3 separate regions of the Homo sapiens genome follow, and regions 2 and 3 are each linked to region 1. The links come from fine-mapping of genetic effects on plasma protein levels. A gene starts in region 1. Each other region holds a variant in brackets. All regions are shown on one strand. Distances are between the middles of the regions.

The links. A credible set is the group of variants that fine-mapping cannot tell apart. PIP is the posterior inclusion probability: the model's chance that the variant is causal. Protein levels are from antibody-based Olink assays in UK Biobank. Linkage for the fine-mapping came from a reference panel and not from the study's own genotypes, which makes the PIPs less certain.
Region 2: its variant is the best candidate, but not a certain one, in a credible set for the plasma level of the EPHA4 protein (UK Biobank, PIP 0.71).
Region 3: its variant is the best candidate, but not a certain one, in a credible set for the plasma level of the EPHA4 protein (UK Biobank, PIP 0.61).

What each region holds. Positions count from the first base shown.
Region 1 is chr2:221,567,453-221,578,335 of GRCh38, forward strand. EPHA4 (EPH receptor A4) reads right to left here and starts at 4,852. Exons shown (of 18, transcript NM_004438.5): 1 at 4,706-4,852; 2 at 1,266-1,333. The coding sequence starts at 4,796. RefSeq lists silencers at 4,808-5,227, 5,828-6,107, 6,158-6,317 and an enhancer at 9,021-9,533.
Region 2 is chr2:221,485,926-221,493,925 of GRCh38, forward strand. The region is part of intron 4 of EPHA4 (EPH receptor A4); the gene reads right to left. Among named protein-coding and RNA genes, the nearest start is that of EPHA4, 82 kb to the right of the region's middle. The variant G/C (reference allele first, on the strand shown) is at 4,828.
Region 3 is chr2:221,521,842-221,529,841 of GRCh38, forward strand. All of the region lies in intron 3 of EPHA4 (EPH receptor A4), which reads right to left. Among named protein-coding and RNA genes, the nearest start is that of EPHA4, 46 kb to the right of the region's middle. RefSeq lists an enhancer at 5,275-5,775. The variant G/A (reference allele first, on the strand shown) is at 3,410.

The DNA.
Region 1 (10,883 bases):
TGTCTACACTGCCAGAGGCCTGCCAATCACTCCTCCCTCCTTTAAAAAGATGGTTTTAAGGGCAGACTGGAATTTTTCAGGAGAGAACAAACCAATGGCAGTCAAGTTCAGGCAGAAAAAATAGGAAGACAGGGCAATCTGTTTTATTTCAGGTGGATTACAAAATCTGTTTGCAACAAGACAGCCTAAAATTCTCCATTTTCATGATTATTTTCTTGCTTAGTCTTAGTTCTGAAATATGTCCTTGATAGCAGACTCTATGAATCTTTAATTTAAAATCCTTCATTCTTTATTCAATGGACCGGTGTGGAGCCCACGCCAGGTTCTAGCATTACAATTTTTGCCTAGTAAAAACTCCTAATCTTTCACCCCCATTGTTTTTAATCAATGGACTCAGCCATAAACTATCAAGCCTGTGAAGGTAGGATGATTTGTTTAATTTTAAAAGGATTTGAGAGTTATTTCAGTTTGGCAGAAGTCAGTTACATGTTGTACTGTTTTCTTTCCAAAGCTGATTCATTCTGACTGGTTATTTAGGGGGAGTAGGAGAATGTGGCCGTTGACCTAGTAAGATGGAGGCAGTAATGACAAGTATTACAAATTTGAGAATAAATGAAGTGATGCTTTTTTCAGACCTTATAATCCAGACTACTCAATCCCCAAAGATTCTTCAAGATTACAGACACATAAACTTTTCATATTTAGCACCATTAATACACAGGCTTAGGGTTTTTTGGACACAAGTTCACATGACTGTCTCTCAGTGTGCAAAAGAACAGCAGCTGATTTAAGAGTGAGAGCAAGGTACAGAGCCTTCCTGCAGTTCATGCAGGTACAATTAGAAATGTCTTCTCTCTCATATCTTTATTTATTCTTTTTTTTTCATCTGGAAGCAGGACAATTGCTCTTAAATTAACCTTGTCAGGACTTCATGGCCATCACAGTAATAGGCATAAATTCTAATTTGGTCCCCGGATCATATTTCCTGTTGGTATTTTAGTTTTAAATAGGCATCTAAGTCTGTGCCTCCACCAGTCTCCTAATTTTGAAACCCCTTTCTGCCCTTTTGGTTTCTAGTTCTTCCATGACAGAGTTATCCAAAGGGAGTATAGGATTTCTCCAACAAAGCGTAATTCACTTCATAGGCCACAGCGGAAATCTGACCCCCTCACCACAATCAACAAGAATCAAGCCATTAGGACTCTCAGAAAGTTGCTAATCACTCCTTTTTTACCCTTTGGATCAGAGAGCAACTCAGGACTTACCCCTCCTTCCAGAGGGCTTGCTATCCACCCAAGTTCTCCCTGAACAGATCTGGAATCCAATAAGGTAACTGCAAAAAACAAAAGAAAAATAGATGAATTTCCAATTGCAAAAAGCCAATAACACAAAAACCATTTGCCTGAGCGTTTCCATATGTGCTGAGGCTGTGCATATCCAACACTGATCAAAACCTAAACTTGGGCTCACTTATGTAAATAATCATTACTCATTTGATCTTCTCCCCCTCTTTAAATCTGCAGGTTCTTATTTATTCAACTTGCTTAACATTTAAAATTCCATCCTAGGACTCACTTGATTCATTTTTCTAAAAAGGATGAATAGAGAATCTGAAGTACAATTCAAAAAGATAAATACATCTATGTAGAGCAGTTACACTCCAGAGCAAAATCTGCATTCATCTCTGTCTGGTATCTACTAGAATTATTTGTTTTTGCAAGTTTCAGATGACCACATAACTCATCAGGGTGACAGAGCCACAAGTGAATTCTCTCTTCTATCAGAGAGTATCCTATCCAAAGGGTCAGGAAAAGGCTCTCCCTAACATTTTCCCTTCCACAACCAAGTAAATAGTCCCTGAATATGGTATCCGCTGCTTTTTTAAATATCAAAGTTTCAGAAAGAGGGAATGCCAGACGTGCAGAATCAGAATGCAAACGTACCGAAAGTATTCTCTCTTTCTCAAGATGTGTTGGGGGACAATCAGAGACTCGTCTTCCACCCGTAGGAAATCACTGGCTTGAATTTTAGGTATGGAGTGCTGCCTAACGGCTTTAGTGTGCTTGTGCTACACCTGAGTGCGTCAAAGCTTGGGGGGAAGGGAGGACAGCCCACCGAGCTGCGGTACCCCGCTCAGGCTAGAAGAGCGCTAGGTAAGGGGAACATCCAAAGGGACGCAATGAATTCAAAACCTCTCTTTCCCACCGAGATCTGCAGTCCTGGGGGTCGAAAGGCCCACCTCAAAGGAACCACTGGGTTATTAATTTGATCAGCCAGGCTGGCTCTTCAGGCTGGGGGAGGGGTGGGAATGGGAAGCCGCCATCCGTGCTCATGCGCACCCCAACACTCAAGCTTACCCCCAGACCCCTGGATTCTGCCCACTTTCCCTCTCATTTCACCTCAAAGTCAATGGAGTTAAAAATCAGTCTCTTTCCCCTACTTTTCCCGGGGAGTCTGAATTCCTGGGGTCTGTTAATGATTTTAAAATGTAGAGCCTTCCCTGGGTCGCTCCCGCCTGGAGTTCCCGCCCCCTTCCCTCCTCTCCTCTCCCCACCGCCAACCCCCACCGCAACCATTCTCTTCTCTCTGTCCCTAGAGAAAAGCCCGCTACATCCATTTGGATTTATGTAAGGTGGATTAGGGACACAAAGGAAACAATAAGACCCAATTTACAAAAAAAGGAGGGAGTAGAAAGGGAGGGTAAAAGAGAGAAAAGGAAACGTGATGGGAATAGAAAGCAACAAAGTGAATTAATTTTTAAGGGGGAGGTGGGGGAGGGGAGGGGAACAGACCTCCCTCCCTCCCCTTCAACATTAGCCTAGGGCTCTCAGAGCCTTTTTGTCTTGGGCTCCCAAGTTTTTCTCCCCCCCCCCCAAAAAAAGAGGGGGTTTAAAAAAAAGAAAGAAAACAGTCTCTACATCTGGGGCGAGAGAGGTCTCAGGGGACGTCCTAACAAGTGTGTGAAGTGGCCAGGAGAACGCGGGATCCACGATTCCTCTCAGGGGAATGAATAACCCTAGGGACCGAGGGGCGGCGACGGCCGAGATGGCACCAGAACCACCAGAAGCCACGTCGGAAGGAGATGGGAGATCCAGAGGGCGAGAGAGGGCCCCTTTCCTCCCAAGCGATGTCTGTGGGCAGGTGTATAAATCTCTCAGAGCCTCCGTCTGGAGGGCTCCGGGTACCGGCTGCCCAGCCAAGGCTAAGTTGGTTTTTGGCTCCCTCCTTCGGAACAGAGAAAACGATAGATTACACAGGGATGGATGGACGGATGTCTGGAGAGATGGAAAGATGAATGGATGGATGGATGGGTGGATGGATGGATAGATGAATGGGTGGATGGATGGAGGGATGGATGGACGGACGGACGGACAGATATATGGATGGATGCATTATGGATGGATGCATGGACGGACGGACGGATGCACGGAGAGATGGATGGATGCATGGATGGATAGATAGACGGATGGACGGACGGATAGATAGATGGATGCCGGAAAGGAGAAGAATGAGAGACGGATGTGAGACTAGATGCACGCAGGCCAGAGCACCAGCATACGCTGGAACAGAGCACGAGCATACACTCGAACACACGCGCACACACTCAGGACATCTGCGCACAGACATACAATCCTCCGCGTCCGCTTCCACGCAGGCATTCGCGCACCTACATACACGCAGTTGCACGCGCGCGCACACACACAGGCACACACACGCAGACATGCACACACACGCAGACATGCACACACACCACACATGCAGACATGCACACACACGCAGACATGCACACACACACCACACATACACACACACACACACACAGTTCGCCTCTCCCTGGGTTTCTCAGAAACTAAATGATCACCGCCCCCCCGCCCCGCCCCACCTCCCGACACAGACACACAGGCACATACAATCCTCCCAGCACGTCCGAACGGATGCACAGAAAACTGAGCACCCAGACGGGTCCCGTCGACCCCGCACGTTAGCTCTAAACTGTGTGCAATTCTGGGGCGAAAAGCTAAAACTCGACTGCGTTCAACTTGCCGGCGGGTTCCCCAAGTCTGCGGGGCGAAGAGCTCGGGCCCCTCAGGCCCGCAATCGCACCCTCGGGGCGCTGGGCTTGGCGAGGAGAAAGGTGTCTGACTCCGGGTGCTAGAAATCAGGTCACTGGCGCCTGACGAGCGGCGCCACGACCGCTGCGCTGCGGAGCAGGCCCCGCAGCCCGGTCCCGAGAAGCGCAGGGCTCGGGAAACTTTGCAGAAACCAGAGCTCGAAAGGCTTTCGCTAGAATCCGGGAGCACCAAGCCTTCACTGTGCTCCAGGCTGCGTTTTCCCCTCGCCCCGGGCTGGCTCAGGAGAGGACGTGGTTCTTGTAATTTTTTTTTTAAATCCCGGCGTTGTCTCCCGTGCATCCCCTCAGGGCGCCTCGAGCGGGCCTCTCTGGCGGATGCTGATAAACTTTGGCCTTTGGTTACAAACTTGGACAGACCCGCCGCGTGCACGGGTCACCGCCTCGGGGCAGGCTGTCCGGCGGTTCCCCGCTGCCCCTTCGCCGATCCCCTCGCCTCAGCCCCCTTCTCCCGAATCGGGACGCACCATTCACACTGGGCTCCCCCCGCACCACCTGGCCCTGCGCTCCTGAGGACCCCTCACCCGCGATGGCCCCTCGCTGTCCCCGACCACAGAAAGGCCGTCCCGCTCTTACCTTCATTCGCGGGGTATACCCTGGAACCTGTGACAGCGTCGCAAATCCCGAAGAGACACGAAAATAGGGCGAAATAGAAAATCCCAGCCATGGTTCGCCGGTGCCAACGCTGCTCCTGCCGCTTCTATCCCAGTGGAATAAATGCTTAAGTTAGGAGAGCAGCGGGCTGAAGACATTGCCAAGGGGGCGGGCCCGGCCGGTGACGTGAGCCCGCCAGTCCGGGGCCCGCGGCCAATGGCGGCGCAGACAGGGCGGCCGAGCCCCGCCTTCACCGAGCAGGGCCCGCCCCAGGGTTCCGCCCCCTCCGGGCTCCACGGGGCGCGCGGTCTCCCGGGGCTCTAGGGGGCGAGCACGGCCGGTCCCCGCCCCCGCCTGCCGGAGGGAGCCAGCGGGATCCCCCACGTTACCTCGAAGGTCGAGCCCCTGGACGGCGGAGGGACTTTGGAAAAGCTCGGAATTGACCGAGGGGAGCCAGAGAAGAGGTTGGAAACCTTTTCTCCCACCACGGGCGGTTTAAGATGGAGGAAAACGCTCTTTTATTGAAATAAAAGAAGTCTAAGCTGACCTGCGGTTGCTTCTTTAGGAGAGTCGACGTGTCTGCGTCCAGCGCGCCCGGGCTGAGCTGCAGACTCGCGCCTGCCACCGCCACCCTCTGCCACCTTGCCCTGTTTTGTCTTTATGGCGCTTCCCCCTCTGAAATACTCTTTGCGGGGAGTTTTGTGGCTCTATCACTCGCTTCTTCCCTGGCTCCCCAGATGCCTGGAGAGCGGGGACCTACTTGGTCCCCAACGTCCAGTCCGCAGCAGGGCTCCGTCACTGTCTCCAGAGACTGAACGAATGACTTTCTAGCAGTAAGGAAGTCCCCGCTGGCCCCGTCCCCCTGCACACGCCGTGGACCTCGCCCAGGGCCCAGGACGCCCCGAGATGGCCTTGGGCAGGGAACCAGTTGTGGATTTCCCGGGGGCAGGGTTGGGGGCAGTCCCTGGAACCGGGCCTAGCCCGTCTGGGAGCGGTGGGGTAGAAGTGAAAGGCTTAAGTGTGGGTGCGGGGACTTGCAGCCGCACAGACAAGGCAGACCGGGACTGGGAAGCTGCCCGGAGCGGCTGCTGCGACTCTCCGCTCCGACCTAGCCGGGGCAGCCCTCCCTGCCCCGGGAGAAGACGGCGAGCAGGAGGACCCGCAGAGCCCCGCCCGGCTGCTCCGGCCCCGGGGGCACTGGCACCATCGGGCTGTGGTCTTTTCCCGATGCCCGAGCCGTGGACGCGGCCACCTAAGAGCGGTCCGGCGAAGGCAGCGCAGCCGGTGTCCCAGGGACCGGTCCCCAACGCCACTCGGTGCATTTCCCCAGGCGCTGGCAGGGGCACTGATTCCTAGCAATGAGGCCTCCCTTCCCCTTCCCAGGCCGCCCCTCCTCTGACTCCCTCCAGAGCAGGGCCGAGTTTTCCTGGGGAGCCTGGGTCCCGGCGGCCGGGCGGCCGCTGGGAGGTGGAGGAGCCTCTCCAGCCCCGGCCGCAGCTCATCGTGAGCCAACCGCGCCACCTGCCGGCCAGATGCGGGAGTGTGCGGCCCCGGAGGAAGGGCGAGCGGACAAAGACCGCAACCCGCAATCCGCAACCCCGCAGAGAGGTGGTGCGTGCGTTTGGGCGAGCTTTTCAGCCACCGCCAAGTCTCGTGCACTAGGGCTACTCCTACCGTGGGGCTGCGGACAGCGCTCAAGAGGTCCTGGAGTCTGTCGTGACTCTCGCCTGCTGGATTTCAAAAGATGGAATCGGAAAGCGTTTCAAGGAGAAACTCCTAACAAACCTTCCGGGGGTTGCCTGAGTGGCTGCTCTCGGAAAAGCGGATCCTAAATAAAGCGGGAGGGTTATAGGGCGACGTCGAGGAGAGGACAGGTCTCGAGTCACTGCTACAGTTTCAGGTCACTGGGCTCCGCAGCAGATCGTGTTTTCTCCCGTGGCTCGAGAGCTGCGCTGGTTTCTCATGCAAACTCAGAGCCGAGCTAATGACATGAGCAACTTTTACTTTTACACAAGATGAGCACGCGTGCCGAGGCGCTGGGCGGCGGCTGTGTGAGTTGGTGGCCCAGACGAACAGCTTGTGCGAGACTCTGGGCATTTCGGTTTCTAGATACAAGATTTGCTTAAATGTCACAGTCCAAAGAAGTGGATTTCAGTCATTGTAGCTACTGATTGCACACAAGTAAAAAGGGAAAAAATATGTACTCGGGGGATATATGTATGTGTGTGTGCGTGCATAAATTATTTAAAATAACTGCACTAAATCCCTTTAAGAAATGCATTTCTGGGTTCTTTCATGTGTCTTTCTGAGTTTTACAGAAAAAGAAGACGAATATTGGTCCCTGTCATTTGGCACACAGATTCAAAAGAGAAAAGAGCAATCCGAATTCTTTTTGAAACCTTTTTAAACAATAGATGCTGGCTGCCTCTCTGCAGGATCTTGAGTGTTGCATGTATCTATCTGTGTTTGAAACGGGAAACTGACTGCCTGCATTGTTATAAACAGTAAAATTTCTAAAACATGTACCATTTTTTTCCCCAGGATATGCACATTGAATATTAAACAAAGTCTTTCCAGACACAGCTGCCTGAAAGCAAGGCATCATTTGCTAGAGTACATTCACTGACTTTCCCTTTTTTCTTCCTATGTTTTAGTTCAGGACCCAAGGCAGCCCGATAATCAGGAGAACCAAGAAGCAGGAAATGCTAACTTGGAAAAACTGAACTATAACTTCCTCTTTAAATCATTTCTGGGTTGCAGAACAGAAATGAGCTGCTGAAAATTCCTCTGTCCATTGTGACTACCTAGAACAAAGGTGTTCTAACCTAGCAGATATGATTCCTTGAAGAGTAAGGCAAAATTTTAAAAATGATGGTGGACAAAGGCCACCATCAATGCAGAAAACCACCCACATTATGGGAAGACAACCTGGAGTTTTCAAATGTTGGAGACTGTTTACAACACATCAACGGAGTCATAAGGATACAATGGAATATCATACCTTTAAAAAAGTACCTAAAATCACCTAATTTTAAAATAAAATTGCTTTACTCTTGAGTAAGACAAGTCTTACTACAGTAAAAATTTGGGGTTATTTTGAATACACTAAGAAACATGTCAAAACATATCTGCTTACACACTTAATGAAAATAGTAATTGAATAATCTGAAAACAATGATATACTTTTTTTTATACAGTGCCTACCACAAACGTTTGAGCTACGAAGTACCTTGTAAATGCTGAATTGAATTAAGATTGAATTCCAAAGGTGTTTTTAATCCGTAAAAGACGTTTGTAAATAGCACCAAGCATCCCGGGGTTTCCACCTGTATGTGGAGGGCCAATTTCACCAAAGTAAAGAGAAAGGAGCCTTTGACCCGTAGACAAATAATGATAAGGAGGGTGTATGAAAGACTGGAGAGACAGAGAGAATAAGAAGATGAATCCACTCTGCTTTTTCTAGGCATCCTGGTGGATTTTTTGTGAAAAAAATGGAACCTGCCCATAGTGCTCCAATGACTCCCTGAGTTCTCTTTTAGAGAACCAGAACTTTCAATTCAGACAACCCCAATTTGATACTTTAGCTGGGCTTTTTCTAGCTGTGTGTCTTTAAGTTCCTTGACCTCTCTGAGATATGGTTTTCTCATCTACAAATTGTAGATAGTTAACATTATATGGTTCTTCTAAATACTGAATGAATGTTATAGAGCTTCTGGTATAGTACCTGGCGTGTGTTAGCCAGCTGTTATTACTCATTTTTATTTTTATTTTTATTTTATGAGACAGGGTCTCACTCAGGTCACCCAGGCTGGATTGCAGTGGTGTGATCATGGCTCACCACAGCCTCACCCTCCCCAGGCTCACGTGATACTCTCACCTCAGCCTCCTGGATACCTAGAACTACAGATGTGTGCCACCACACCTGGCTAATTTTTTGTATTTTTAGTAAAGATGGGGTTTCACCATGTTGCCCAGGCTGGTCTCAAAATCCTGGGCTCAAGCAATCCTCCTGCCTCATCCTCCTAAAATGCTGGGATTATAGTCATGAGCCACCATGCCTGGCTATTGTTTCTGTAAAATAATATTTAATTAATAAGCATTCACATTTTGAAATGAGAAATCATTTGTTCAGCTTGAATTGTTCCTTCCAGAAGGAAACCAAGCACTGTGATTTACCTTTCGTGCTCCATGAGAAAATAAGATGCTTTATTTTATTAACTCCTAGAGTAGGGAAGGGAAATAAATTCTAAATTCTTCTCTTCTTTTATTGTTGATTTATGACAGCTGACATCCAACTTTTATATTCCTAGGTAATTCCACTGGATTTGGACCTAGAGGCTATGCTTGTCTTCAAATAGAATAGTGTAAAAAATACGTGAAAGAAGGTGTGAGGAATCCAGAGTCCCACAACCAAGTGGTAATGAATAACCAAAGCTCTACCTAATGAAATTCCCACCGTTGTTAGAAAACGCTTCTACCACAAGCTACTGCATCTTAAATATACAAATTTGACACAACAATTGGTGGGCTTCCGGAAGCCCCCAGGAAACCTAACTGCAGAGTTCATCCTTTGATGTCAAGGCTTTGATGCTGTTTGTTATGCAAATAAGAAGCAGGACACTTATGAGCCCTTTACACCTGAGTGGGAAAAAAAATGGCTGCAGAGCTCAGGTCTTCATGCATCAAGAGGATGAGAGAGCAAGACAAAGCAAGAGGCCTTTTTTTGTTTGTTTGTTTCATTTTTTTAATAAGTTGTTGGGGTATAGGTGGTATTTAGCTACATGAGTAAGTTCTTCAGTGGAGATTTGTGAGATCGTGGTGCCCCCATCACCCGAGCAGTATACATTGCACCGTATTTGTTGTCTTTTATCCTTTGCCCCCTCCCATCTTCCCCCCAAGTCCCCAAAGTCCACTGTATTATTCTTATGCCTTTGCATCCTCATAGCTTAGTTCCCACATATCAGTGAGAACTTAGGATGTTTGGTGTTCCATTCCTGAGTTACTTCACTTAGAATAATAATCTCTTTTGCATCACTGAGGTGAGGAGGGGCAGACAGGAAGGTTGCAGTTCTCAAGGGAGCAAGGCTTTTCTAAAACTTCATTTGATGCCGTCCGTGAATTTTACTCGGTTCTAACAAACATTTCTTCAGTGTCTACAATGTACCAAATCCCACATGAGGAAGAGGTCAGGAGATCAAGACCATCCTGGCCAACATGGTGAGACCCCGTCTCTACTAAAAATACAAAAATTAGCTGGGCAAGGTGGCGGGCGCCTGTAATCCCAGCTACTTGGGAGGCTGAGGCAGGAGAATCGCTTGAACTCGGGAGGCGGAGATTGCAGTGAGCCAAGATCGAGCCACCGCCCTCCAACCTAGCGACAGAGTGAGACTCCGTCTCAAAAAAAAACAATAAATAAAGAGATTTCTTCCTAGTCATGACCATATGTGATATCCACCGCACAGGGTTGTGGGGGCCAGAAACCATCAGGGACCTTTCCACCACCAGGGGCCCAAGAAGGAGGAGGAGAGACAGAGAAGGCATGTGCCAAGATGCTCAGTTCAGTTCTGTAATAACTCTAGATCCCTCTCAGGAACATTTTGCAGAGACAATGTGTCCTTCTGGAGGAGAAATTAGAGGAGATAATTTGCATCTCTTTTTGGCTGCATTGAGAAAATGAGTTAAAGTAAAACATCAGAACAATTTTATGTTTTAGGCATGAAAGCCATTCCCCAAAAGAAGTGTAAAATGCTTTTTACTTGAAACCTTTCAATATAACACCTCTGAACTGAGGTTCACTCATTCTAACTCAAAATGCCAACACAAAGCTGCAAGCCCCAGATATTAAATATTTTAGCTATTAAACACTTTTAATATTTAACAGCCATGTTACTTTGTGGTTATCAGAAGAGTTTTGGAATTATAGTTGTCTTATGATGAAAAATGAATAATATATGTGATACATGTGTGATATACGTGTGAATAAAATTAAGCTGGCACAATTTTTTTAGCCACTTTTTTTTTTTTTTTTTTTTTTTGAGACAGAATCTCACTGTGTCACCCAGGCTGACTGGATTGCAGTGGTGGGATCTTGGCTCACTACAACCTCTACCTCCGGGGCTCAAGCACTCCTCCCATCTCAGGCTCCTGAGTAACTGGGACT
Region 2 (8,000 bases), 83 kb before region 1:
TATTCTGAGTAATCTGAGCTCTCTTTTAATAAATACAAGGCATCCAGAAGTAAAAAACCTAACTCCGATTATTTTCTCTTTCATTTATGTAAGTATTGTGTCTGGCTATTTAGAAGCAATTAAATTTCTGACAGAGTGATTGCCTTTGTCATCAGAAATATGTCCACCTGCGAGTAAGTCTCCAATTACAAATATGAGGTTTATAACAAAAAAGGGCTAACTGTTGTACTTGTTCTAATTTTCTAGTCTCCACATCTGAATCGACCTACTGAGTACATACACCCATCGGGTAGCTTGAGGGTCATTGTGAATGGCAAGATTTTGTTTTCAAAACTACCCACTACTAGCCTCAATACAGGACTGGCATAACACCAGTCCTTATGCTTATGTCATTGTTTGACATTTCAGTTCCTTATTTCCTTTCCTGCTTTGTTTGTAACATATAATGGTGTCTTGCTACTTAGACACCATTCCATGTCTGTTTCTATCACCAGTATATGTGCTCCTCAAGAATTGATGTCTTGGCCGGGCACAGTGGCTCACGCCTATAATCCCAGCACTTTGGGAGGCCAAAGTGGATCACCTGAGGTCAGGAGTTTAAGACCAGCCTGGCCAATATGGTGAAACCCCCGTCTCTACTAAAAATACATAAAAAAAAATTAGCCAGGTGTGCTGGCACACGTCTGTAGTCCCAGCTACTTGGGAGGCTGAGGCAGGAGAATCTCTTGAACCTGGGAGGCGGAGGTTGCAGTGAGCTGAGATCGCGCCATTGCACTCCAGCCTGGGTAACAGAGTGAGACTCTGTCTCAAAATAATAATAATAATAATAATAATAATAATAATAATAATAATTGATGTCTTTATCACTTCCTGTTTTCTACCATGGTTCCTCGTTCAGAAATTTCAAAAAATGTTTGATAAGTCAATGAATGAATGAATTAAAAACTAATGAAGTCCTTTAATGCATCTTATACCCAGTGTTATGAAGTGTGTGAACTATGCAGCCTTCTCCGAGCCAAAGCTGTACTAGTCAACTTTTCACATACAGATTCATTAGCTTTATACCTGTGAAGTAGTAACTCAGTGTAACTAGTTTGTTTCAATTGCCTCTTTTTTTCATGGTTTAGAATTACTTTGGAAAAAGTAGAAAGGGCTATATATAAAATATTAGTGGTTACTTCTGCTGGGAGAGATTGTGAATCATTCATTTATTCAAAAAACATTTATGGTGTATCTAGTGTTTATCACCTGCTTTAGAGGAGAGAGGAAAAATATTCTTATTCATTTTGATAACTTCCTGATAGTTGCCTAGATAGTTGCAGGAATGGATAGGGAACCTAGGGAAAAAGGCAGAGACTCAAGGAAACTAAATAGGGATTATATGTGCAGTGGATGTCAGAGCAAGCACCTGCCTTGTCCTGTTTTTACAGCTGTGTAACCAGCGACGGCTGGGAATTTGAAATGTGGGTTCTATCAAATAAGGTTTTATCAAATTGGGATTGGTTATTACACTTTTCTTCCTCCACCTTGATTTCAGGAGGTGATTTACTCAGACATGAAAGCTTTATCTCTGGGGAAAACTTTATCTCTGAAGAAGCTTAATTTTAACATTTCTAAAGGTAGACAGGTATTTTCCATATTAGTCTTTATGGAACAACAGCTTTTGCCTTTAATTTTAATTTTTTCACCCAAATCAAGACATTCTAAAATATTAGATTGGTACAAAAGTAATGGTGGTTTTTGTCATTACTTTTAATGGCAACTACTTTTGTACCAACCTCATATAAATTAATCAAATGCTGAGGTGTATTTAAGGGAACATAAACACCCTTCCTTCACGTTTTTGGTTGTATTTGTAAATTTCCCATGAAATTCACATATAAGCCCAGGATTCTCTCTGTGCCTGCACCCAAAAATGAAAATAGCATGTTCAACTATTTTAAAGTTTTCATATTTAGTATGCCCTTTACATTTGTAATATAACTTAGTGGCCCAGATATTAATGGTAATCCCAGAAATAGAAGTCAAATGCAATAATCTTTAGTTTATAAATCTTTTGCACAGGGGCCGGCATAATTTCTCTGTAAAGAAATTTTATGATCTGGCCAGAAAATAAATATTTTAGGCTTTATGGGCCATCTGCTCCCTGCAGCAACTACTCAACTCTGTAATTCTATCTCCAAAGAAGCCATAGACAATACCTTAACAAATGATCATGGCTGTGCTCCAAGAAAACTTATTTGCAAAAATAGGTGGCCGTTAAAATTGACCTTCAGACCATTTCGTGCTATTGAAAATATGATGAAAGCAAGGCATCTTCTTTTTAGGAAGATGCTCTCTGGCACCCTCAGAATTCTGCATGTAATTCCAGGAACTAAAAAGCCTATCTAAAAAGCTCAGTCCAGGAACCCCTGATTAACCTATGTATATAGCCCAGGTGACAACTCTGGCTGCTAAAGTCCAAGTTAGACCTACCTTTATTGACTAAGGAGGGAATAAAATGAGACATATGGCTTATTTCTTGAGTTTCTCATTGCTCTGAAAGAAACGGGCACTGAATTTCTTGCCATTATAGATACATTTAATGAACATCCATTCACTTCACTGGTGTGAAATACTTTCTGCATCACACAGCAAGTACCAGAGAAAGGTGCTACAATGGGTAATTATTATTTTCTAGTGGGATGTCACCTCACATTCAGTTGACAGGAGTTTGACAGCATTAAGCCCCAAAGAAACTATAGCCACATGATAGTAGATACAAAGGGCTATCATATCATATTATAAAATATCACATCATATCATGTTGTATTATAAAAGGAATCTTGATCTTCCTTTACCAACCATGTGCTCTTCTCTGGGGAAAAAAACAAGCTTCTGGAAATGAACCACATACTGTCAATGTGACATTTAAGAACGGCAATATTCCAAGCATAAAAGAAAATTCCAGTAATTCCACATATCTTAATTCTTTCCTCCCATGGATTAGACTAAAATTTAATTCTTGAGTAGTTTAGAGAACACAGTTGCTGGCTTATGTCAAGATTTAAAGTAGCCCCTTTAGGACAAGCCAGTATTTACATATCCACATGAAATCTGTGTGAGCCTTAATAATGTCATTTAAAAGCCGTCAGCCAACACTAAACCTAAAGTCAGAAATGTCTCCAGTGTGTCTATAAGTTTGGTATAAACCATTCCATGGAAAGTCCAGGTACCCTATGTACTCTACCTCACACCCAAAGTCAGAGAAAATGCATTTCTTTATTCTTACAGGAAGCAACTGAAACTTCAGTAAAAGATGAAAACCTGCTATGATAATTGCGTTTTGAAATGGGTTTGGCAGAAATGGGTTCTGCCAAAGGGCTTAAATATATGTGGATATACGGTGTAACGTGCCATATAAACCTAAAAGTTCTATTTCTCGTAACGACTGGAATTAAAGTGCCAACAGAATGCAAAACTGTGGAAAAAAGTAAGTCAACTTTAAAACTCACATTGTTAGCAAAATTTTGCACATGCAACTCAAAATACCTTGGAGCTGGTAGTTCTGCTTGGAATTCTCACTCCCGGCCCTTTGACTGACTGACTTCTTATCCCTGGAATAGTTCTCATTCCTGACTACTCCATACAAACTGAAATCCTCCCTTTCCCTGTCCCAATGCACCCAATTGCATCACATTTTTAAAAATTTCCTTCTTAGGAGAACCTTCAATTATCTTATTCATTTGTTTGTTTATATTCCCATTAGAACATAAGCTCCAGGAGAAAAGGAATCTTCTCTTTTTCAGGTTTATGAGAATATCTACAGCCTTCAGAGTAATGCCTGACATCTGGTAGAAACTCAATAAATATCTGCTAAATGAACAAATGAATGAATGATGATGCTTTAGCCCAGTCCAGCTCACTAATCAGAAGCATCACTACCATAGCACTATGGCTGAGCACAGTGGCTCATGACTGTAATCCCAGAACTTTGGGAGGCCATGGTAGGTGGAAGGCTTGACAAGCCTAAGAGTTCAAGATCAGCCTGGGAAACATGGTGAAACCCTGTCCCTGCAAAAATTATAAAAATTAGCCAGGTGTAGTGGCATGTTCCTGTAGTCCCAGCTACTTGGGAAGCTGAGGTGGGAGGATTGCTTGAACCTGGCAGGTGGAGGTTGCAATAAGCTGGGATCATGCCACTGTACTCTAGCCTGAGTGATGAATTGAGACCCTGTCTCAAAAAAAAAAAAAAAAACCCACTGCCATAGCACTTTTGTATGTCACAAAAGCTAAGCAAAATAATAATAATAATAATAAAGAGAGAAAAAATGGCAATCACATGCTAAAATGTAAAAAAAAAAAAAGAAAAGAAAGAAAGAAAATCAAGTCTGCAACCAAGGCAAGAAGACAGTTGATAGAAAAACCAAAGTCTCTGGTCTCATGTGATAGAGTAGTTTCCAGAGCTATCACAGACATCTAATACTTAACTGATTTTTAATCGCCATTTTAAAATTCAATGCCTGGGCTATGAAATTCATTCTGGATGGGAAATGGAGCATCCCCCAAGAGCATGGGCAGAAAGGTAACTCTCCCATGATCGATGTATTTAAGCACTGCTGTCACCTCACTAAAATGCTAAGGCAACCAGTCCAACACATATCTTGGAGGAAGCAGCACCTTGGGTCTGTAGTTCCATTTCCTAAGGCTTCATTAATCATGTACAACTTTTGGACTGTCAATAGCACTTCAGCGTCTTAGCTGTAAAACCCTTCAACCCTTCAGATAAGCCTTTGTTGTTAATCTCTCTCCAGCTGAAAGACAGGTTATAAGGAAGAGTCAACAGTT[G/C]GGATGCATTACGTTTTGACTCTGAAATAAAGCCCATGCTTCCCCTGACATTTGTATATGTTGCCACCACTAATTGCTTTCTCCCAGTCCTATCTGCTGTGGGTTAGTTTACATAAAGATGGCTGTTTTAAAGACATCCCTCCTGACATATATGAACAGTGCATAACCTCTTATCATGGTGGTTTATGTGTTTTTACAACAAAGACAGCCAAGCAGGGCTGTCCATGATTAAACCAGAACCTTTTGGATGCATCAATCACTTGCTGCTGTCATGAAAAATTCTTGGCTTCCTATAGAGGTTCATTTCTTGTTGTGAGACTTTCCCATAACCTATTTTTCTGGTTCTATCTCCTTTCCCATTCTCCTCTCCAGTGATCTTTGTCTTTTTTTTACTGGGTTAATTAGGGGTTTGGTTTCTTTTTATTAGGATGACTTGTTTATGGCTGAAGTGCCTTATAAATTCTCAGTTATACACAAGAAAGCTACCACGCCAAAGACCAAGAAAAGTAGAATTGAGTATTTCATTTTTAAAATTATCTAGCCTGTGCATTAATTTACTTTCCTTGCAAAGCACTTTTTTGTATCTTATTTAACAGCTGCAATCAAATCTGACAGAAAAGTATTTATTGTTCACAACAATCTGATCGCCAAAAACTAAGATAAGTTAAGCAAATTGCCAAAATTAAGACAGCCAACATGCGCAAAGCTGTGATCAGAAACCCTGACTCCAAGGCTAAACAACCCTGCTTCCCTTTCATAGAGATACAAATAATATAAAGAAAATAATAACCCATAATTACAAATTCTTTTTGAGAATTGGATAGAAAGTTTCCAACTTTCTCAGTTCACCCCAGAGTTCAATTTCACCTCACTTCCCTGCCCTTCATGATGATGATGGCTAGCTAGTACTACTTCCCAGATGATCCTCTTTTATCATTTTCATGGGGATTATCTTTTCTGCCTTGTTCCTACCTTCTGTGCAAGAGAGTGGCTAGGAGTTTCTATTAAAGGTTCTTTTTCTAGGTGGAAGATCATAGGAATAGGGCGAGGGGCAATTATATCTCTATAGCAGAATCTCTCATAAATCTAAATGTTGATAGCAAAGAAGATACCCTGGGCTGAGTGTGGTGGCTCGTTTCTGTAATCCTAGCACCCTGGGAGGCTGAGGTGGGAGAACTGCTTGAGCTGGGAGGTGGAAGTTGCAGTGAGCTGAGATTGCACCACTGGGAGACAGAGTGAGACTCTGTCTTAAAAAAAGAAAAAAAGAAGATACCCCGTTCTCACCCCAGGGGATCTCAGAAAAATGTGTAATTAACCTTGTTTCATAGAAGCATGCTGTGAATAACCACTGTATGACTTCCATGCATAGTGTCAAAAATGGCATCCAGAAATGACAGGACTCGGTCAATGACAAGCCACTCTTAATTATTCAGGGTGGTAGAAAAATTGTAATAACCTGGCTAAATGGCATTGGCAGATTATTCAAGCCTTCCACTTGGGCATATATTAGTGTCCCTCGAATCTTTGCATTTTCCAGTGGAATCCATAATGGGCTGTTTATGACTATAAAATGGGGAGTATGTGGGGAAAAAAAAGAGGAAGCTAAAACAGCATTTTTTTAAAAAGAATTCAGTGAGATGATACCTGATCTTTATGAAATATCATGAGGCTCTTAAAATTTTGCAAACAACCAAATGGCAAATGATCAGTCTGGGGTCTATCTAGTGCCTTCGTTGAAGCTCACCTGGTGATCTTTCTCCCTTTATCTTTAATTTTCTTCAAACAAAAACCATCCACTTGGTTGTCTAGAGGTACTTTTTCCTTTTAGTAGCTAAAATGCTGAAAGGCAATCCGAAAGGAAGAAACAAAAATGTGGTATACTCACTAGCTAACATCAGATGTTGAACTACTAAGCTCTAACTGAAGCAGCAGCATACGTTGACGGCTGCATCTGAATCGTCCAAATGTCTTTGGTTGCTTTGATCAGTTTGTACAGTCCATGGGACAGACACATTAGCTGGCTTACCAACTAACAGGCAGCAGGACCATATGTTCTGAACTAAAAACCAACTATGTAATCTGGCAGTGGAGGAGTTGGTGTCTCAATCTGAGTTTTTGTCCTATGACAAATGGAATGCAGTATGAAACTATACTATTACATTGCAAATTTGATAAATGACATGGAATGAGAAATTCCCCTGGAAAACTTGGATTTGAGATTTTTCATAAAAATATGTTCACGAAAATGATTGATTGCATGAATGATAAAATGGCTAGAGATCAACCAATGAATCTTCTGAAACACTTTCATTTACGACACTTTGGGAATCTTTGGCCTTTGTTCTCACTTTTCTAACTAGTCTTTCACTAGAGCTAACTGCACCCTCACTGACCTATTTCACAGAATGTATGCCTCCCCCATCATTATATGATTAGTTACTTGCAGCTCTAAAGCAAAAAGAAATATGCTTTCGGGTAGATAAAAAAATATATAGTTTACTTGAAACTGAAGGCTGCATTTTATCCTATGGTTTATACATCAAAGCCTCGCTCTAGACATCCCTCCCCAAATCCCTTAGCCAGACTGCTAAGCATGTAAATCTTTGGGGTAGAGAATTGAACAGAATAACAGGGGCACCTTCAAGAGCTTGTTTGAAAATGGATGTGAGATTCCCAAAATTAAAGCCCTTAAAAAAATAAAAAATAAAAAAATAAAAAAGGAAAAGAGTCCCTCCCTTCTCCTGACCTTGGAAACAAGTAAGGACGATGTTATTTTAATTTGCATTCAAATTTTCACAACACAGTCACACAGCACCGGTCGAATCGACATTGGGTTTCCACCGAAGATTGCTCATCATTTCATTATGGCTCATTATGTTGATAACTGTCAGAAAGCATTAGCAGCGAGGGCTTTGAGTAATAGAACTGAAATGGTAATTTTAAAACAATACACTTTCTGGGAGGAAATACAGCAGCGCACTAAATTCAATTAGAAAAGGCAAATGTAGAGACAAAGTAAGTGATGTTTGTTGTTTGGAACTTGGCTGTTTCAATTTCTTGATAACGTAAACCTGGAGAAAGTTTTTTCAAATCAGGACCTCTGGTCATAGATCTTAGGAAATCTGCCCTCATTAGCTCTGAGCTCTCCTAGTATAAAATGTCTTGAAAGCTGC
Region 3 (8,000 bases), 47 kb before region 1:
TGGCACACGCCTGTAGTCCCAGCTACTCGGGAGGCTGAGGCATGAGAATCGCTTGAACCCAGGTGGCAGACGTTGCAGTGAGCCAAGATTGTGCCACTGCATTCCAGCCTGGGTGACAGAGCAAGACTCCATCTCAATAAATTAAAAACAAACAAACAAAAAAACAAATAAACAAAAAACCCAAAATAGGCCGGAAATACAGAGCAAAAGGGAACTAGCATTTACTGAGCACTGCCTGGGACTAGGCCAGGCACTTCAAATATGCATTCTCATTTAATTCTCACCATTTTCCCTTGATATAGACATTGCCAGTTATGCCCATACATGTGAGGCACCAGATAAATTTGAGGCCCAGTGTTACAGATAATGCTACATTCATCGTTGAAGAACGGGGAAGGTGCATGAAGAAACCCAAGAGAAAGCAGAATTTCCAGCCATCAGATAGGGTATCAAGGAAAATGAGGCTTGGAAAAAGAGTCTTGGATTGTCAATATCACACGTTTGAATTCTTTGAGAACTGCACAGGGAAGTGACAAAGACGAAGTTAAGCTGTAGGATTGGTCCAGTGCATAAAGGCACAATTAATCAAAACTTAGCTAAAAACACCTGTTCAATGACCAACCTATAAATGATATACGGTAACAGATTCTTGACACGACACCACTCATTATTACAGGGATTTGAACACTAAGTGAAACTGGTGTCTCTGAAACCGAACTGGCTTACCTAATAAATTCCCACTCTCACCCCAAAATGTGTTTCAAACAAGGTTTCCCACACTTCATTTACTTATGCTTCATTTTTATGAGTTTTACCTTCTGAGAGTTCAATTATGTTCTTGATATGTCAAAAGCAACTTGCCATAAATCAAAGGCAACAATAAAAATAAAATCCTATTATTATTATTATTATTATTATTATTATTATTATTATTTTTTTGAGACGGAGTCTCCCTCAGTTGCCCAGGCTGGAGTGCAGTGGTGCAATCTCGGCTCACTGCAACCCAACCTCTGCCTCCCAGGTTCAAGTGATTCTTTTGCCTCAGCCTCATGAGTAGCTGGGATTACAGGTGCGTGCCACCATCCACCTAATTTTTGACGGGGTTTCACCATGTTCGCCAGGCTGGTCTCGAATTGGTCTCGAATTCCTGACCTCAGGTGATCCGCCTGCGTCGGCCTCCCAAAGTGCTGGGATTACAGGTGTGAGCCACCACGCCCAGCCAAAAGATTTTTTTAAACTGTCTGTCCTTATGCAGCATTTGAAAACCCCAGTACTTCCAATATACCTTCCTCACTTACAAAAGAGAACACTGGCGATCAGTTGGGTAATAAGAATAGCAAGTAGTTACTGGGGCTCTCTATGTGCACTTTCATTAATTCCTTTGATACCCCCAACAACGCTAAGAAGTAGGGGCTATTTTTAATTGGCTAACTAATATATTTAGTCAATAATTTTTTTTTTTTGAGACGCAGTTTCCCTCTTGTTGCCCAGGCTGGAGTGCAATGGCACGATCTCGGCTCACCACAACCTCCGCCTCCCAAGTTCAAGCAATTCTCCTGCCTCAGCCTCCCGAGTAGCTGGGATTACAAGCATGTGCCACCACGCCCAGCTAATTTTGTATTTTTAGTAGAGATGGGGTTTCTCCATGTTGGTCAGGCTGGTCTTGAACTCCCAACCTCAGGTGATCTGCCCATGTCGGCCTCCCAAATTGTTGAGATTACAAGCATGAGCCACCGTGCCTGGCCAGAATATTTTTTAGTAACTTTTTTTGAGACAGAGCCTCCCTCTGTCACCCAGGCTGGAGTGCAGTGGTGTGATCCCGGCTCACTGCAACCTCCATCTCTGAGGTTCCAGAAATTCTCCTGCTTCAGCCTTCTGGGTAGCTGAGATTACAGACGTGTGCCACCATGCCTGGCTAATATTTTTTGCATTTTTAAGAGAGACAAGGTTTCATCATGTTGGTCAGGCTGGTCTCAAACTCCTGAACTCAAATGACAGCCTCCCAAAGTGCTGGGATTACAGGCATGAGCCACCGTGCCCGGCCCTCAGTAGAATATTTTTTGAGCACCTGGTATGTCCTAGGTGCTGGGATAAATTCAAACCCCTTTTGTTAAATTGATGGAAAAAGAGGGGAGTGGAAAGAAACAAACAAAGCAAAACAAATATATATATAAAATGCCTTGTGGTGAGAAACGTTCTGAAGGAGAGGAAAAAAATGACATATATTCCAATGGAGAAAACTGAGGCACCCAAATCATGCTGGACTTGCAGAGGGCAATGCAAAGTTCATGAAGTAGCGGAGCAGAAGTCAGATGCCAAGAGAAAACTCCAGAGCAAAGATGTCCAGCCACGTCCGTGTGCTGCCTCCTCTCCTGCCGGATGCTAACTCCACTTCTTAGCACCAGTATCCAACCCATCAGGTACTGCCTGAGCACCCTTTAATGCTAGGCTTCGGGGTAAAAGAAAGAACAAGTGAAACTTGAGAAAGCATAATCACCTATATACAGTCAAGAGGGAAAGTGGTAAATGACACGTCTCTATGGTTCCTCCAGTGTTTGCCTATCTTTTCAGGACTTTTTGCTGAAATGAGAATGAGAATGAGGATGTAGGCAGTGGTTGGTCCATGTTACATCTTAGTAGAAGTCATTAGAACCCACCTAGTTAGACTTACAATCAGTGTTACATGGGGATGAATGTCACCTGGGAAAAGCGGCTGTAATTTCCTAACAAAGCCTATGTCAAATGAAAAGGCAAATTGGGGAAGACAAGGAAGTACATTGTACTTAGTGACCTTTCAGAATTTACCAAATGCTTAATCATCTACATAAGGTGCAAATATGCTTTAACGGCTTGACTTAACCTGGGAAGATACAACATATAAAAACATCTCACGTCTCCATTTACATTACTAAACACCAGCTGGATTAGTTGCCACACAATTGATGCTTATTAGCACCCAAAAGCTTGATGTGATGGCTACGGCACGGCTACTGCTCATGAATTAAAATGGACATGCTCATACTTAAGGTATGTGTTTCCCAATTCAGAGATTTAAAATGAAGTTTTCCAAGTAACAATTATATTTTTATAACTCCTAAGTTCTCAAAAGTATCCTATTGTCTTATTTACCTGGAAGGAGTGCTGGAGAGAGAAAAAAAGAGGCAATTTTTATAAATCTATAAATATGTAATTTTATAGCCTTTTGAAAGAGTTTACTATTTGCAATGCTCACCAAATTACATGCCCATGATAGAAATTTCTATTTCATAAAAGAATGTGATAAAAATTGACGATGCAGACTAGACCAACCTGTCAGGGACCTCAGTGTTCACAATGGCCTCAGGACAGAGCAGCTGCAAATCATCTGTCCCCGGCAATGTGAGCACAGAGAGGACACCCATCACGCTGC[G/A]TGGAACTCCCCATTTAGGCAGATGAAAACAGGCGTGAGACTCAATGCACAACATGTAGATTAAGTTAAAAGGTTAATTTTCTGACTCGTGGTCTGGATAGTAGAGCTGTGGAGGAAAACGAGTTACCATATGCTCCGTAAATTTCCTTTCGGTTAAAAAAGATGAGGGAAAGAGAGAGAGATATGTCCTTGATTCCGTGCCATTAGTTCCGGCAGTGAGGATGCTCACTGTCACGCCTTTCCCAGGTTTGATCTGATGGAGGACGAACGACTCAGTGGTTAGACACAGGCTCGACAGTCAGACAAACACATTGAATGATGTTGCTGCCACTTGAGAGAGCAGGCGAGATGTGGCTCTTAACTCTCAGCTGTGGCTTCCTCAGCAAAATGGGGTTGATATTAAGTGAGGAATAATAATAAGAAACTGCCCACAAAGTACTTGGCACCAGCACTCAATACACCACTACCTGAGTCCTCTCCAGGAAACAAAGTTGGAGCCTATATCCCTTACAGGGAAGAACTGAGATTCTCTGAAAAAAAATAAAACGTTGCCAAGAAAAGAAGCTGGGAGGATAGGAAAGGGTCTACCAAGTACTTTTAGGGACTGTGTCTCCAGAGTGATAGAAATAATGTATAATTCTTTTATAACTCTCTATTAGATACTGTGTTTCCCATTTTATTTTCTAGATAAAAAAAATTGAGGTTTAGCAAAGGTCCAACTGGTTACATAGCCAAAGCAGGAGTCCAATTGAGGTTTATCACATTTCAAAAATAATTATAACTAATATTTATTGAAGAATTATGGCTCAGCACTTTATATACATAATCATACTAAATATATAAGACACTCTTATGAATAAGGAAACACATTATTCCCATTTTAAGCTAAGGAAACTGGGGCATATACAGTTAAGCAGTTGCTTGAGTAAATATGGCTAATAAGTGACAGTGTCAGGATTTGAAGCAAGGCAGTGTAATTCCGGCACTTTATATACATAATCATACTAAATATATAAGACACTTATGAATAAGGAAACACATTATCCCCATTTTAAGCTACGGAAACTGGGGCATATACAGTTAAGCAGTTGCTTGAGTAAATTTGGCTAATAAGTGACAGTGTCAGGATTTGAAGTAAGGCAGTGTAATTCCAGGTCACAGCCACAATACACGTGTGCCTCGAAGGTTGCAGGCAGGATACATGTGTCCCTCGAAGGTCATGAGCCTGATATACACGTCTCAAAGGTCTCCACCTTTCTCCTGTGTGCTCAGGAAACAACACAATCTAGTGTAAAAAAAAAAAAAAAAATTCATGGCTGGGTGCAGCGGTTCACGCCTGTAATCCCAGCACTTTGGGAGGCCGAGGTGGGCGGGTCTCTTGAGGTCAGGAGTTCCAGACCAGCCTAGCCAACTTGGTGAAACCCGCTCTCTACTAGAAATACAAAAATTAGCCAGGCGCAGTGGCGAGGGCCTATAATCCCAGCTACTCGGGAGGCTGAGGCAGGAGAATTGCTCGAACCCGGGAGGCAGAGGTTGCAGTGGGCCGAGATCGAGATCGCGCCATTGCATTCCAGCCTGGGCAATATAGCCAGACTCGGCCTCAAAAAAAAAAAAAAAAAAAAAAAAAAAAAAAAAAAAAAAAAAAATTGACACACAAACACGTTTAAAATGAGCAGTATTAAAATCTGAATCTACCCCCGTCTCTACTAAAAATACAAAAAAAAAATTAAGCCGGGCGTGGTGGTAGGCACCTGTAGTCCCAGCTACTCAGGAGGCTAAGGCAGGAGAATGGCGTGAACCCGGGCGGAGCTTGCAGTGAGCCGAGATCGCGCCACTGCACTCCATCCTGGGCAACAGAGTGAGACTCTGTCTAAAGGAAAAAAAAGAATCTGAATCTACTACTTTGTCCTTACAACAACATAGGAATAAACTAGAACGTTGTGGAAATTGGATAAATTCAACATGCTCCATGTTCTCTTGGTTTAGAGGATTCTTATTAATAACCCTGTTCGGCTCTTGAGGCCTCTTCAGAATGACAAGTGCCTCTGATTAATGTCCACGTGCACATATTCACCTGCCGAGTCTCTCATCAGAAAATATTAAGAAGAAGGGGAGAGAAAAAGAGAAATAGAAAACTAAAGAGGTAGCTGAAATAGATACAGTTCCTCAAAAGATGCCCTGGACAGACCTTCACAATCTCCAGATACAGGACAATGATTCAGCCCCATATGACAGAGGCTCCTGTGGTGAGGCCCACTGAGAGTCCACTCTCATTGTCACCTGGTCATTTACAGCTGAGTATGGAGGCCCCAGCCCCAGCAACCGGGGAGGTCCACCGGGGTCTGCCCGACACTGGGCAGTTACAGACAATGGGGCAAGAGCGTGTGTCTGTGCTTCCTCAGGGCCACCTTCTCAAATCCTTCTTAAGGATTCAACATAACATTGGCCTGGATCAGTTCTGAAGATATCAGCGGTTTATATTTATCTCACAATAGCCCGATGAGGTTCATTGTATTATTATTACCATTTTACAGAAGAGGAAATTGAGGAACAAAGAGATGAGGGAACTTATCTGTCACATGGCTAAGGAACTGTCGGAGCAGGGTGGAGTCCAAGGCAATCTGACTCCAGAGCTCACAAGCTGCCCTGCAAACCCCTCCTTTTAATATTTCGCCAATTTCTGAGGCTCATGAGCAGAGACAAAGACATTCTTTCACAAGTTAAAAGTGTTTATACATCTTTCCCAGGCCCCACCCCTACCTAACCACCCCCAACCCCGCCGTTTCCCCTCCCCTTCCTTCTCTGTGCACACAGCAGACAAACCTTATCTGTTGTTTAAAACATAGAGTTATGCCTGTCTCATTCTCTCTTGTGTAAATGCAGCAAGATTCCTGATACAAAGGCCTGTAATCCATAGTAAAAGTCTGATAAGCGTCTCTTAGGTGAAAGAGCAAACATATTAGCATTGTGGGAGAATGTACTCATTGAGTAAAAAATACACAGACTCAAGAAGACAGGGTGACCAGCATAAAATAGCAAATACTAGCCTTGCTACGCTGCCTCCCTAGTAATAATCCAGGCTCGGTAACCATTTAAACAGGAAGTGTATATTAACCATTAGATGCATCAGCAACAGCAATAACAACAAAATTCGAGCAGCCAATTCAACGTTTTCTCTGCTCATGGACATAAGACTATAAATCCCAGCCACCAACTGCTCACCTTAATCTTATTCCCTTTGAATCACCACAGCCAAGTCTGAACAACTTTTTCATTATAATATTATTATCTGAGTCTTGCAGTGCTTGTTTAGAAAGCATTTTCCTAAACAGTACCTCATTTAATTAACTGAATCATCAATACAACTGGTAAGGTAGGAGTTCTCCTTTTTCCCAGATTAGGAAACTGAGTTTCAGGGAGATTACCCAGCCAGCAGGAGCAGAAACTGGCTTTTCTGATTCTAGGTCCTGTGCTGCTTCCCTGACACCATTTCCCCATCCTCTGATGCCACTTCTATACATTTTTTAGCCTTGGCTTCTGGGTTCCATGCCCTCCTGTGCCATCACCAAATAGGCTACATTCCAGATTTCAAATAAATAAATGGCCCACACAACTAAAGGCATGCTCTTATCCTCTGTCCGACATACTCTCTAACACAACCAGATAAAGATCAAAGTGGCATTTACAGGTCTCAAATACATCAAATGCATGGATCATTAAAACAAAACAAAACAACAACAACAACAACAAAAAACTACGTATATGCCAAAAAAAGTTTTAAAGAAAAATTTTAAAAACCACTCCAAGAGTACATACAATATAGTAATAGATGTTTTCCATGAGTAAGAGGATTGTGCATGGTTTCCTTTACTGCAATAGTCTATTCTTTCTAAATTTTCTATAATTTACATACATGACACTGTTGCTTGACATCAGAAAAAAAAAGATTTCAGAAATGTTCAGTAGTGAAAGCACTGAAAAATTCCAGGTCTCCACAGGAAGGAAGGAAAGGGACTTTGCTGCAGGGGGCTGATTTTGCCCCACCTTGAGGAAGGCTGGAGAGGCTGGGAGAAGGGGCGGTCACCATTCACAAAGCACAGGAGGGAAACTGAGTAGACAGCTTCCTCTCTCCACCAGGAATTGTGACTTCTGGGAAACAGCCACCCCTCCCTGCAGGCTGCCAACTCTCTCCACACCTAAACACGCTGACTTGTACCAATGGAAACGCCTAGCTTTTAAAACAAGGTTACAAATCTGTTGCATCCAGGCAGAGAGGGAGTTGATTATTCTACAGACAGAGCTAATTATTTTGACCTAATGCTTTGAGATCCTCCAGTATCAAATCTGTGACTCCAAATAAATGGAGAGGTCATTATCACATGTTATCTTTACGCCTGGACTTAAAAACAAAATTTGAGACAACGCTGAAGGGCATAAGCTTGCTCACTGTAGTAGCTTTAGTACAACACTTTCTGCAAAGTTGCTGACAATGGAGTATGAAGCACCAGTCTCCAACACCGAGGGTTTCTAGGTGTGACACCATGGAACTTTTAGACACAAAGCAAACAACTTTTGTTTTTCCCCTACATTT